3 linked regions of the Homo sapiens genome follow. The protein of the gene in region 3 interacts with the protein of the main gene of each other region in a pairwise test. Each region holds a gene or a part of one and is shown on either strand. Other genes may lie near its edges. The genes, in order: TMEM98, POR and RABEPK.

Region 1 (3,481 bases), on a different chromosome or scaffold from region 3:
ACTTTCAGGAGGTTGAGGTTTCTGTGTGAGCCTGGGTGAGTAGGATCAGCACGGGTCCTAAGATGAGGGTGTGGCATTGTCCAGAGAGTGGACCTGTTCTGGTGCTCACAGGCCCATCCTAAAGAGTACCTTGGACTACTTCTAGAATGCTCCGTGCCATAATTCAGCCAGGGTCCTGCTTTGTCCTTTTGCCCTCACACTTCTTTCTCCTTCTGGCCATGTTTTGTCCCCATTGTTTTTCCTGCTCCATTTATCCCACACAGTGTGTTGATGGCCTGTGAGTCTCGAGGAGGTGGCTTCAGCTCCAGGGCACTAGAGAAAGGAGCTGGCTGAGATAGGCGCGGAGGGTGACTGTGTCTCTGCATGTCCTCACCGGCTCCACAGCCGTGAATAAGAGTGTTTGAGGCCATCTTTTTTTCAAGTGCTTTTAGAAATCAAACAATACATCTTTATTTTTTCTTCCTATCGAGTGTTCATGAGCAAAGATTTGGAGCAAAACCTTGTGCCACGCAAATCAGAATGAATTGTAGTTCTGAACTTGATTTAAAAAAATTAACCACAGGGTAGAAGAAATCCAGTAGAGCAGTGTGAAGCCAAATGAAACTCATGGCCTTCTTTTTCGGTGTCTTACATACCTTTAGCTTTGTATTTTTTTTTCCTGAATACAAGAGTAATTAATGCTTATAAAAATGTGAAATACTGCAGACATACATGACCTGGAAAGTCTACTCCCTCCCAATTGTAGGAAAAAACCACTATTAAGTGGTGAGTGTTCCTCCAGATCCTTCCCAACCCCACATTTCAGAGCTTTTGTTTATCTATTTTTATGCAAATGACAGATTGAGCTTTACATATTATTTGGCAATTTGCCTTTTTAATATAGTAGTAATCTTGAACATCATTCCATATGTATGACTGTATTTTAAAAAACCATTGGAACTGAAACAAAACTAGAAAACAAAGTAGTCTCTGCAAAGACTGAACCTGAAGTCTTTGTGCCTAAGTGTCTGTCTGAGAATGCAGAAGCAATTGGAGAAAGAACCATTAAAGACCAGGTCTGGAATACCAAAAAAGAAGAACTGGAATAAAGATAGAAAGGAAGGAAGGGGCCAGGCGTGTGGCTCACGTGCCTGTAATCCCAGCACTATGGAAGGCTGAGGTGGGTGGATCACCTGAGGTCAGGAGTTCAAGGCTAGCCTGGCCAACATGGTGAAACCCCGTCTCTACTAAAAATACAAAAATTAGCTGGGCATGGTGGCGCGTGCCTGTAATCCCAGCTACTTGGGAAGCTGAGGCAGGAGAATCACTTGAGCCTGGGAGGTGGATGTTGCAGTGAGCTGAGATAGCACCACTGCACTCCAGCCTGGGTGACAGAGCGAGACTCTGTCTCAGGAAAAAAAAAAAAAGGAGAAAAGGAGATCAGGAAAGTGAAGTACTGAACACCTTTTGCCTCCGGTCAGGGTGGATGATGTTGTGAAGTCGATGTACCCTCCGTTGGACCCCAAACTCCTGGACGCACGGTGAGACCAGGGGTGGGTGCATGTTCGGTTTTTCATGCAGAGGTCCACAACCGTTTTATCAGATCTGTGAGGCTGGCTGACTGGCTTGTGTAGGGAGGGTGGCTTTGCAGCCTCCTTAGGCTGCCCGGGCCATGCGTGCCATTTACTTCAGTGAGCGGCGCCTGACTGGGTGATAGAGGCCAGTCCTCTCCTGAAACCCAGGAGAAGAAAGAGGCAGTCTTAGATTTTAAATTGTTATGATTAGACTTCCGGCCATGTTACATCCTAACTGTGCCTTCCCTTCTACCTTTTCCCCTTTCCCCCTCTGATTTTTGTACCCCAGAAGCAGACATGCCTTAGCTGTGAGTGCCACCCAGTTGGGCGGTGGGGCAGTGGTTCCCAGAGCAGTGAGAATGGAGGTGACAGGTCAGCCACAGCTGTGCTCACCTGCCACCAGACATGCGCATACACAGAGTGTACTTAGCCCTATGAAATTGTTATGTTCCTATACCAGATGCAACCCATTTAAGAAATATAGATTCTTTCGTGCCTTGGATTTATATGACTGTGTCATACACATGTAACAGTTGCCAGATCGGCAGTGGGTCACAGCGCTTCAGCTTTGGTTTCTCTGCCCCACTCCTACTGCTGCCGAGCTTTGTCCGTGGGTTAATAATCTGTAATGTATTCTCAAATGCATCATGGTACTAACCATATAAAAGGTATTCTACAGTGAATCTTTCAGCACTGAAAAATCTACTCCTCACTTTGGTTTTCAGTTACATTTTTTTTTTTGAGTTGGATAAACCAGCCCTGGGCCTTACCAATTTGTAATCAATAAGGAATGTTTAAGTGAGGGTGTGTCTGTCCTATGTTTCAGTGGGCAGCGGTTGGGGAATATGCTCATCTGATTGACTATATCTGAACTGTTTCACAAAGCGCTCTTTGGGGAGATGTTAATAGGTGTGCTGCAGAAAATGGCTTCCACAGTCTTAAATAAGCTTGTGAGAGACAGCCTGTTATATTCTCCTTGGAGCTTTACCAGGTACATCTCAGAAGGCTCTGAGGCAGGCTTCAGTTAACCATGTTTAACCCAGCCATCTCCAAATTTATTTGAGCATGGAGCCAACTTTAAATTGCATACCTACCAACATCCTAGGGAAGGGTGTGCAGTTTGGGGAATACTAGTCAAAAAGTCTATCTATTTGGGCTTTTGTGCAAAGTCCCTCATTTCCTAGGAAACCTGACCCTATTTTCTTTTTTTCCCTAGGACGACTGCCCTGCTCCTGTCTGTCAGTCACCTGGTGCTGGTGACAAGGAATGCCTGCCATCTGACGGGAGGCCTGGACTGGATTGACCAGTCTCTGTCGGCTGCTGAGGAGCATTTGGAAGTCCTTCGAGAAGCAGCCCTAGCTTCTGAGCCAGATAAAGGCCTCCCAGGCCCTGAAGGCTTCCTGCAGGAGCAGTCTGCAATTTAGTGCCTACAGGCCAGCAGCTAGCCATGAAGGCCCCTGCCGCCATCCCTGGATGGCTCAGCTTAGCCTTCTACTTTTTCCTATAGAGTTAGTTGTTCTCCACGGCTGGAGAGTTCAGCTGTGTGTGCATAGTAAAGCAGGAGATCCCCGTCAGTTTATGCCTCTTTTGCAGTTGCAAACTGTGGCTGGTGAGTGGCAGTCTAATACTACAGTTAGGGGAGATGCCATTCACTCTCTGCAAGAGGAGTATTGAAAACTGGTGGACTGTCAGCTTTATTTAGCTCACCTAGTGTTTTCAAGAAAATTGAGCCACCGTCTAAGAAATCAAGAGGTTTCACATTAAAATTAGAATTTCTGGCCTCTCTCGATCGGTCAGAATGTGTGGCAATTCTGATCTGCATTTTCAGAAGAGGACAATCAATTGAAACTAAGTAGGGGTTTCTTCTTTTGGCAAGACTTGTACTCTCTCACCTGGCCTGTTTCATTTATTTGTATTATCTGCCTGGT
Region 2 (3,650 bases), on a different chromosome or scaffold from region 3:
CCAAAAAAATACGAGAACCAGTCAGGCGTGGCGGCGCGCGCCTGCAATCGCAGGCACTCGGCAGGCTGAGGCAGGAGAATCAGGCAGGGAGGTTGCAGTGAGCCGAGATGGCAGCAGTACAGTCCAGCTTCGGCTGGGCATCAGAGGGAGACCGTGGAAAGAGGGAGGGGGAGGGGGAGGGGGAGGGACCAGACTTTGTCTCTTAAAAAAAAAAAAAAAAGACTCCCAGGCATAGGAAAGCAGGCATTCACCATAAATCTCATTGTTAACAGGAACTACCTTCATAGCCCAAGGTTTTAGGAATACAGAGACACTCTTGCCAGTCAGGATAGTCCAAGGCTCGTGAATATCAGGAGCCACTCAAGGGCCAGGCCTGGAGACTTGGAACATGCAGGGTTTAGGGCAACCCCCGCCAGCCACACAGCTGGGGAAAGGGTTTGCTGCGAAATGGTCCACTCTTGCGTGCACTTCCTCCCGCCTGCCCCCCGTGCGGTGTCCTTGTGGGATTAGAGGATGTTCCAGCACACTGAGAGTCAGTGGCTGTCATTTTCTCTGTCTTCCAGGGACCCAGTCCCAGCTGCTGCCTTAGCTTGCACCCCAGGACCACCCTGGGCTGGTGCTGACACCACTGGGGGCTGTCTGTTATGTCAGCCCCAGTCCAAGACTGTGGCTGTCTTGGCAGGAACCTGGCTGAGTGAGCCCCTTCTCCTACCCCGTGCAGTGACCATTTCCTGCAGCCCCAGGGGCAAGGCCCAGCATTTAGGTGGGCACCCCAGCCAGCCTCAGGGGCACCCTGCTACCCTCTGCTGACATCTGCTGTTTCTGTCTCCTAACAGTTTCATGATCAACATGGGAGACTCCCACGTGGACACCAGCTCCACCGTGTCCGAGGCGGTGGCCGAAGAAGTATCTCTTTTCAGCATGACGGACATGATTCTGTTTTCGCTCATCGTGGGTCTCCTAACCTACTGGTTCCTCTTCAGAAAGAAAAAAGAAGAAGTCCCCGAGTTCACCAAAATTCAGACATTGTAAGTGCCGCCTCTCAGCCTCCTCTCTCTGTCCCTCTTCTGTCACCACTCCAAGCAGTGTCCTGCATGCGGGCCTCAGGCTGAAAGAAGCAAGGCTCCTTGTAGCATTTTGGGGTGACTCTTGGGTTTTGCCTTCTTGCTAGATTGTGCTTGAGCTCTCCCTTAATCATCTCTTATGTGGGGTTTATAAGGCCCTTTTCTATCTGCTGTTTATATGACCTTCACAGGAAGCACTGCGAAAATGACACCAGTTTACAGATTAAGAACCGGGGGCTCAAGAATGTTAACGGGCCTGCCAGGGTCATTAGCCAGCAATAGCAGCGCTAGAGCTGGAACCCTTTTTTCCATTTATTTATTTATTTATTTATTTGGAGACATGGTCTCACTGTATTGCCCAGGCTGGAGTGCAATGGCGGTGGCACGATCAAGGTTCACTGTAATCTCCACCTCCCAGGCTCAGGCAGTCTTCCCACCTCAGCCTCCCGAGTAGCTGGGACTAAAGGTGTGCACCACTATGCCCAGCTAATTTTTTTTTTTTTTTTTTTGAAGCAGAATCTTGTTCTTTCAACCAGTCTGGAGTACAGCGGTGCGATCTCGGCTCACTGCAACCTCTGCCTCCCAGGCTCAAGCAATTCTTCTGCCTCAGCCTCCTGAGTAGCTTGGATTACAGGTGCCCGCCACCACGCCTGGCTATTTTTTGTATTTTTAGTAGAGACAGGGTCTCACCATGTTGGCCAGGCTGGTCTCAAACTCCTGACCTCAAGTGATCCGCCCACCTCGGCCTCCCAAAGTGCTGGGATTACAGGTGTGAGCCGTTGCGCCCAGTCAATTTTTGTATTTTTTTATAGAGACAGGGATTTGCCATGTCCCGGGCTGGTCTCGAACACCTGGACTCAAGCAATCCGCACACCTTGGTCTCCCAGAGTGTCGGGATTACAGGCGTGAGCCACTGTACCCAGCCTAGAATTGGCATTTTAAAGTCTTTTTAAGGCTGTAGCCACCTGGAAGGCTATGTGCTAATGAGCACAAAATCTTTGGACAGGCCTTATTTTGTTGCTCTTTTAAACTTTTCATGAAGCTTCCTTTTAAGAATAAGTGAAAAAGATGGATTAGTTAAAAGAAAAACGTTAAGGAAATAATAGTATAGATGGTATGTAGACAGAAAAAAATGATACCGAAGGTCTGCCTAAGTGACTGCATCCCTGTCTCTCCAAGATTGATTTCCATAAGCCACACGGAAAAGTCATTCTCCAGATTTTAGGGTCCTGCGGCCAGAATTACTTCCTGCGGTTACGCTTGGCTGTGTTTAACACCAGTCTCAGACTCCAGGGGCCCGCAGCCAGGTTTGAGTGGGGACCTGCCAGGTCAGGTCTGAGCCGAGGGAACTCCAGGGGCACGGGCCTGCTGCCTTCAGGGACTCCCTGGATTTGGCAAGGGGCAGGTCTCAGGGGCAGGATTGGGAGCCATTCTCAGACCAGAACCCCTTTCATTCTGTCTGTCTTCAGGGGACCCAGTCCCAGCTGCAGCCTTAGCTTGCACCCCAGGGCCACCCTGGGCTGGTGCTGACACCAGTGGGGGCCATCTGTCATGTCAGTTCCAGTCCAAGGCTGTGGCTGTCTTGGCAGGAACAAGCCACACAGAAAAGTCATTCTCCAAGGCTGGGCATGGTGAAGCATGCCGCTCACATCAAATCCCGATTCCCTATTCCAATCTGGGTATCAGCCTTCCCCGCCAGAACACTTACAGCCTTCACACCGTAAAGCAGATATTCACACAACACAGTTCTTATACCATGGACAGGGAATTAGTTTTACATTTTTAAAAACTGGGTTCAGGGCCAGGCACAGCGGCTCACGTCTGTAATTCCACCACTTTGGGAGGCCGAGGCGGGAGAAATCACTTGAGGTCAGGAGTTCGAGACCAGCCTGGCCAACATGGCGAAACCCCGTCTCTACCGAAAATACAAAAACTAGCTGGGCGTGGTGGTGCATGCCTGTAATTTCAGCTACTAGGGAAGCTGAGGCAGAAGAATCGCTTGAACCCAGGAGGCAGAGGTTGCAGTGAGCCAAGAATGCGCCACTGCATTCCAGCCTGGGAGACAGAGTCCGTCTCAAAAACAAAACAAAACAAAACAAAACTGGGTTCAATCTTATCTCCATCATTGACTCACTGAGCAAACATTTCCTGAGGCCCTACCTACAGTGTCCCAGACACTATGCTAAGGTGTGTGGCTGCAGCAGTGAAGAAAATAGATGAATGCTGTCTTCATCAAGCTTACGCTCTAGTGGTGAGTGAACCCTGGGCGAGACCTTAACCTCATTCTGCCTCAGTTTCCTCACCTGCTAAATGGAGGCAGTATTCCCAATCTTGTGGGGCTTTTGTCTTAAATGAGGAAGAGTCTATAAACTCACCTAGCACTGCCCCTGAGGGATAGGAGCTGTGTAGTGTTTGCGTTGATCGTATTTCGTGCCAGGCACTATGACGGGCACGATCAGGACCACAGAGCCAGCATTTATGTTAAGCTGGAAAATGAGGGTGTTGCAACATAGTTTTTTTTTTTTTGAGACAGACTTTTGCTCTTGTCACTCAGGCTGGAGTGCAGTGGTGCAATCTCGGCTCACT
Region 3 (3,650 bases):
TCCACCTCTTGGGTTCAAATGATTCTCCAGCCTCAGCCTCTCGAGTAGCTGGGATTACAGGCACATGCCACCATGCCCAGCTAATTTTTATATTAAAGAGGGTGATTTTCTATCATATCCCTTTTCTCTCCTAGAAAATATAATTTGACATCATGCCCAAGAAATATGAAATATGTACTTAGTTGCATTTGTTACCAAGGCAAGTCCCTCAAATGCTCAGGACTCCTTTGTGATTCTTTGTGCTGGTGTTTGAGTTGGCAGGAATACAGCCCTAGGGTCTTCTGGGCCTGGAGGTGACATGTATACCTTTCTAGCTCCCTCTAAGATCCAAAAGCTCTCCAACATCTGTAACTATAGAGACAGCTACATTTTGCTTTGGATATAGGCTGAGACTTTTTCAGTCTCCAGGTCCCCATTTGAGTCCCACACATATTACAGATGTTTCCTGTAGCATTTTATATATTGGATGTAGACCTTTTACAAAAGACAGAATTTCTTGGTGTGTTATGGTAGAGCAAGTGTGGGACTCTGATAGAACTGAGTTCAGGCCCGGCGCGGTAGCTCACGCCTGTAATCTCAGCACTTTGGGAGGCCGAGGCGGGCAGATCAGGAGGTCAGGAGCTCGAGACCATCCTGGCTAACACGGTGAAACTCCGTCTCTACTAAAAAAAAAAAAAATACAAAAAATTAGCCGGGCATGGTGGCGGATGCCTGTAGTCCCAGCTGCTCGGGAGGCTGAAGCAGGAGAATGGCGTGAACCCGGGAGGCGGAGCTTGCAAAGTGAGCCGAGATCGCGCCACTGCACTCTGGGCTGGGAGCCACAGCGAGACTCCGTCTCAAAAAAAAAAAAAAAAAAAAAAAAAAAGAACTGAGTTCAAACTCCTGCTCTGCTACGCACATATGCTATAACCTGCAGGAAAGGATTTAAATGTGCAGAGCTTCAGTTTCCTCATCTAAAAGTAGAGATACTTCCGCTCACTTCCCAAGCTTGAGTGAAGACACCAGGGATGGCAGTGCCCAGGGCAATGATGCTGCCCATTGAGGGTGCTCAATTAATGCATCTGCTTCTATAAAACCCAGGTTCATCCTTAAAAGAAATAAGCTTCTATACATCTATCTAGGTGGTGAAATTTTATTCTCCAGTCAGAGGAGTGGGAATTAGAAAGATCTTGGTGTTACTGAAAGAGTTTAAATTCCAACTCAGCCATTTCTTAGGCATGTCACTTTATCTGTCTCTCTCTCTCTCTCTTTCTCTCTCTCTTTCTTTGCCTTATTCTGTAACCCAGGCTGGAGTTGCAGTGGTGTGATCTTGACTCACTGCAACCTCAACCGCTGCAGGCTCAGTATATCCTCCCACCTAAGCTTCTCAGGTAGCTGGGACTATAGGCATACGCCACCACACCCGACTAATTTTTTTTTGTATTTTTTTGTAGAGACAGGGTTTTGCCATGTTGCCCAGGCTGGTCTCAAACTCCTGGGCTCAAGCAATCCACCTGCCCCAGCCTGCTAAAGTGTTGGGATTACAGGCATGAGCCACCGAGCCTGGCTAGCCATGTCTCTTTTAAAAAGTTACTTAATCCATCCCTACTTCAATTCTCTTACCTGTAAAATGCGGAAATTAATATTTGTTTAGCATTTACTGTTTAGTAGGGACTGTTATTACTGCTACTGAAATGTAATAGTATTGTCTTTTTTTTTTTTTCATTTCTTTCTTTCTTTTTTTTTTTTTTCAAGATATGGTCTTACTCTTTTACCCAGGCTAGAGTGCAATGGCACGATCATAGTTCATTGCAGCCTCAAACTCCTGGGCTCAAGCAATCCTCCTGCCTTGGCTTCCCAAAGTGCTAGGGTTACAGGCCTTACAGCCACTGTGCTCAGCCTAATTTTTTTTAATTTTTAATTTATTTTATTTTATTATTATTATTTTTTAAGATGAAGTCTCGCTTTGTCAACCAGGCTGGAGTGCAGTGGCATGATCTCAGCTCACTGCATCCTCCGCCTCCTGGTTCAAGTGATTCTCCTGTCTCAGCCTCCTGAGTAGCTGGGATTATAGGTCCCCACCACGACACCTGGCTTTATTTATTTATTTATTTATTTTTAGTAGAGATGGGATTTCACCATGTTGGCCAGGCTGGTCTAGAACTCCTACCCTCAAGTGATCCACCCACCTTGGTCTCCCAAAGTGCTGGGATTACAAGCGTGAGCCACTGCACCCCTGGCTGATTTTTTGTAGAGACAGGATATTGCTTTGTTTCCCAGTCTGGTCACAAACTCCTGGGCTCAAGCAATCCTCCTACCTCGATTTCCCAAACTGCTGAGGTTACAGGTGTTAGCTGCTGCACATGGCCTGCCTACTTTCTTTTATTGGCCACATTTTCTGGGAAATCTGGCACACCTGGACTCTGGCATCTAGTGGGAATGAATGTTAGCAGATGTTAGGGGGAGCGATAGTGAGCAAAGTAGAAGAGGGTTCAGAGAGGATATTTGAAGGCCTCCAAAACAAATTGACCTCTTTTTTTTCTTCTTTTTTTTTAATATGGAGCCTTGCTCTGTCACCCAGGCTGGAGTGCAGTGGTGCAATCTCAGCTCACTGCAACCTTCACCTCCTGGGTTCAAGCGATTCTCCTGCCTCAACCTCCTGAGGAGCTGGGATTACAGGTCCCCACCACCATACCCGGCTAATTTTTCAGATTTTTAGTAGAGATGGGGTTTTACCCCATGTTGGCCAGGCTGGTTTCGAACTCCTGACCTCAAGTGATCCGCCCGCCTTGGCCTCCCAAAGTGCTGGGATTACAGGCATGAGCCACACTGCACCCAGCCTGACTCCATTCTTGTGCTTACAGCTTTTAAATCTTGGGGATTTTGGACTGTCTTGGCAAATCCTAAGTATCATCTTCATTCTTCCTTGATGTTTGTGAGTATGAGATCCCTGCCCAAAACTATGCTGGCCCCCCTGGGGATTGGAGTTTGGAAACTGACTTCACTCAGCCCCAGAGTCAAGGTCAGAAGCCCCTCTACCTGGATATTTTAAGTGCCTGCATTCTCTCTGGCCCAGAAACCAGGACGTGGACCACGCCAGAAGTGACCAGCCCCCCACCATCCCCAAGAACATTCCACACATCATCGGCAGCCATTGGAAACCAGCTATATGTCTTTGGGGGCGGAGAGAGAGGTGCCCAGCCCGTGCAGGACACGAAGCTGCATGTGTTTGACGCAAGTATGGACTGGTGGGCACCTTGGGGCTGGTCAGGGCCATCCCAGTTTACACATTACCTAATATAGGAAGCAGAAGTTAGAAAAGGAAAGCCTGACTAAGTGTCTCACTTCTAGACTTCTTTGTTATATCTCTTAGCTGATATCTTTTTCCCACAGCAAAATTGGCATTTAAAAAGGGATAGTGAGGCCTGGCATGGTGGCTCACACCTGTAATCCCAGAGCTTTGGAAGGCTGAGGCAGGTGGACCGCTTAAGGTCAGGAGTTCGAGAACAGCCTGGCCAACATACCTTTTCTCTACTAAAAACACAAAAATTATCCGGGCATGATGGTATGCACCTGTAATCCCAGTTACTCAGGAGGCTGAGGCAGGAGAATCGCTTAAACCCAGGAGGAGGAAGTTTCAGTGAGCCAAGATTGGGCCACTGCACTCAGCC

What was found.
Region 1: the proteins of RABEPK (region 3) and TMEM98 interact in a two-hybrid assay, tested with the Homo sapiens proteins (one large-scale study listed by BioGRID and IntAct).
Region 2: the proteins of RABEPK (region 3) and POR interact in a two-hybrid assay, tested with the Homo sapiens proteins (one large-scale study listed by BioGRID and IntAct).

Annotation. Positions count from the first base shown.
Region 1 is NC_000017.11:32,938,017-32,941,497, forward strand, and holds part of TMEM98 (transmembrane protein 98), read left to right. Parts: intron 1-1,460; coding exon 1,461-1,520; intron 1,521-2,769; coding exon 2,770-2,977; 3' UTR 2,978-3,481. UniProt on the Homo sapiens protein: Functions as a negative regulator of MYRF in oligodendrocyte differentiation and myelination. Interacts with the C-terminal of MYRF inhibiting MYRF self-cleavage and N-fragment nuclear translocation.
Region 2 is NC_000007.14:75,953,153-75,956,802, forward strand, and holds part of POR (NADPH--cytochrome P450 reductase), read left to right. Parts: intron 1-836; 5' UTR 837-849; coding exon 850-1,028; intron 1,029-3,650. UniProt on the Homo sapiens protein: This enzyme is required for electron transfer from NADP to cytochrome P450 in microsomes. It can also provide electron transfer to heme oxygenase and cytochrome B5.
Region 3 is NC_000009.12:125,217,484-125,221,133, forward strand, and holds part of RABEPK (rab9 effector protein with kelch motifs), read left to right. Parts: intron 1-3,055; coding exon 3,056-3,217; intron 3,218-3,650. UniProt on the Homo sapiens protein: Rab9 effector required for endosome to trans-Golgi network (TGN) transport.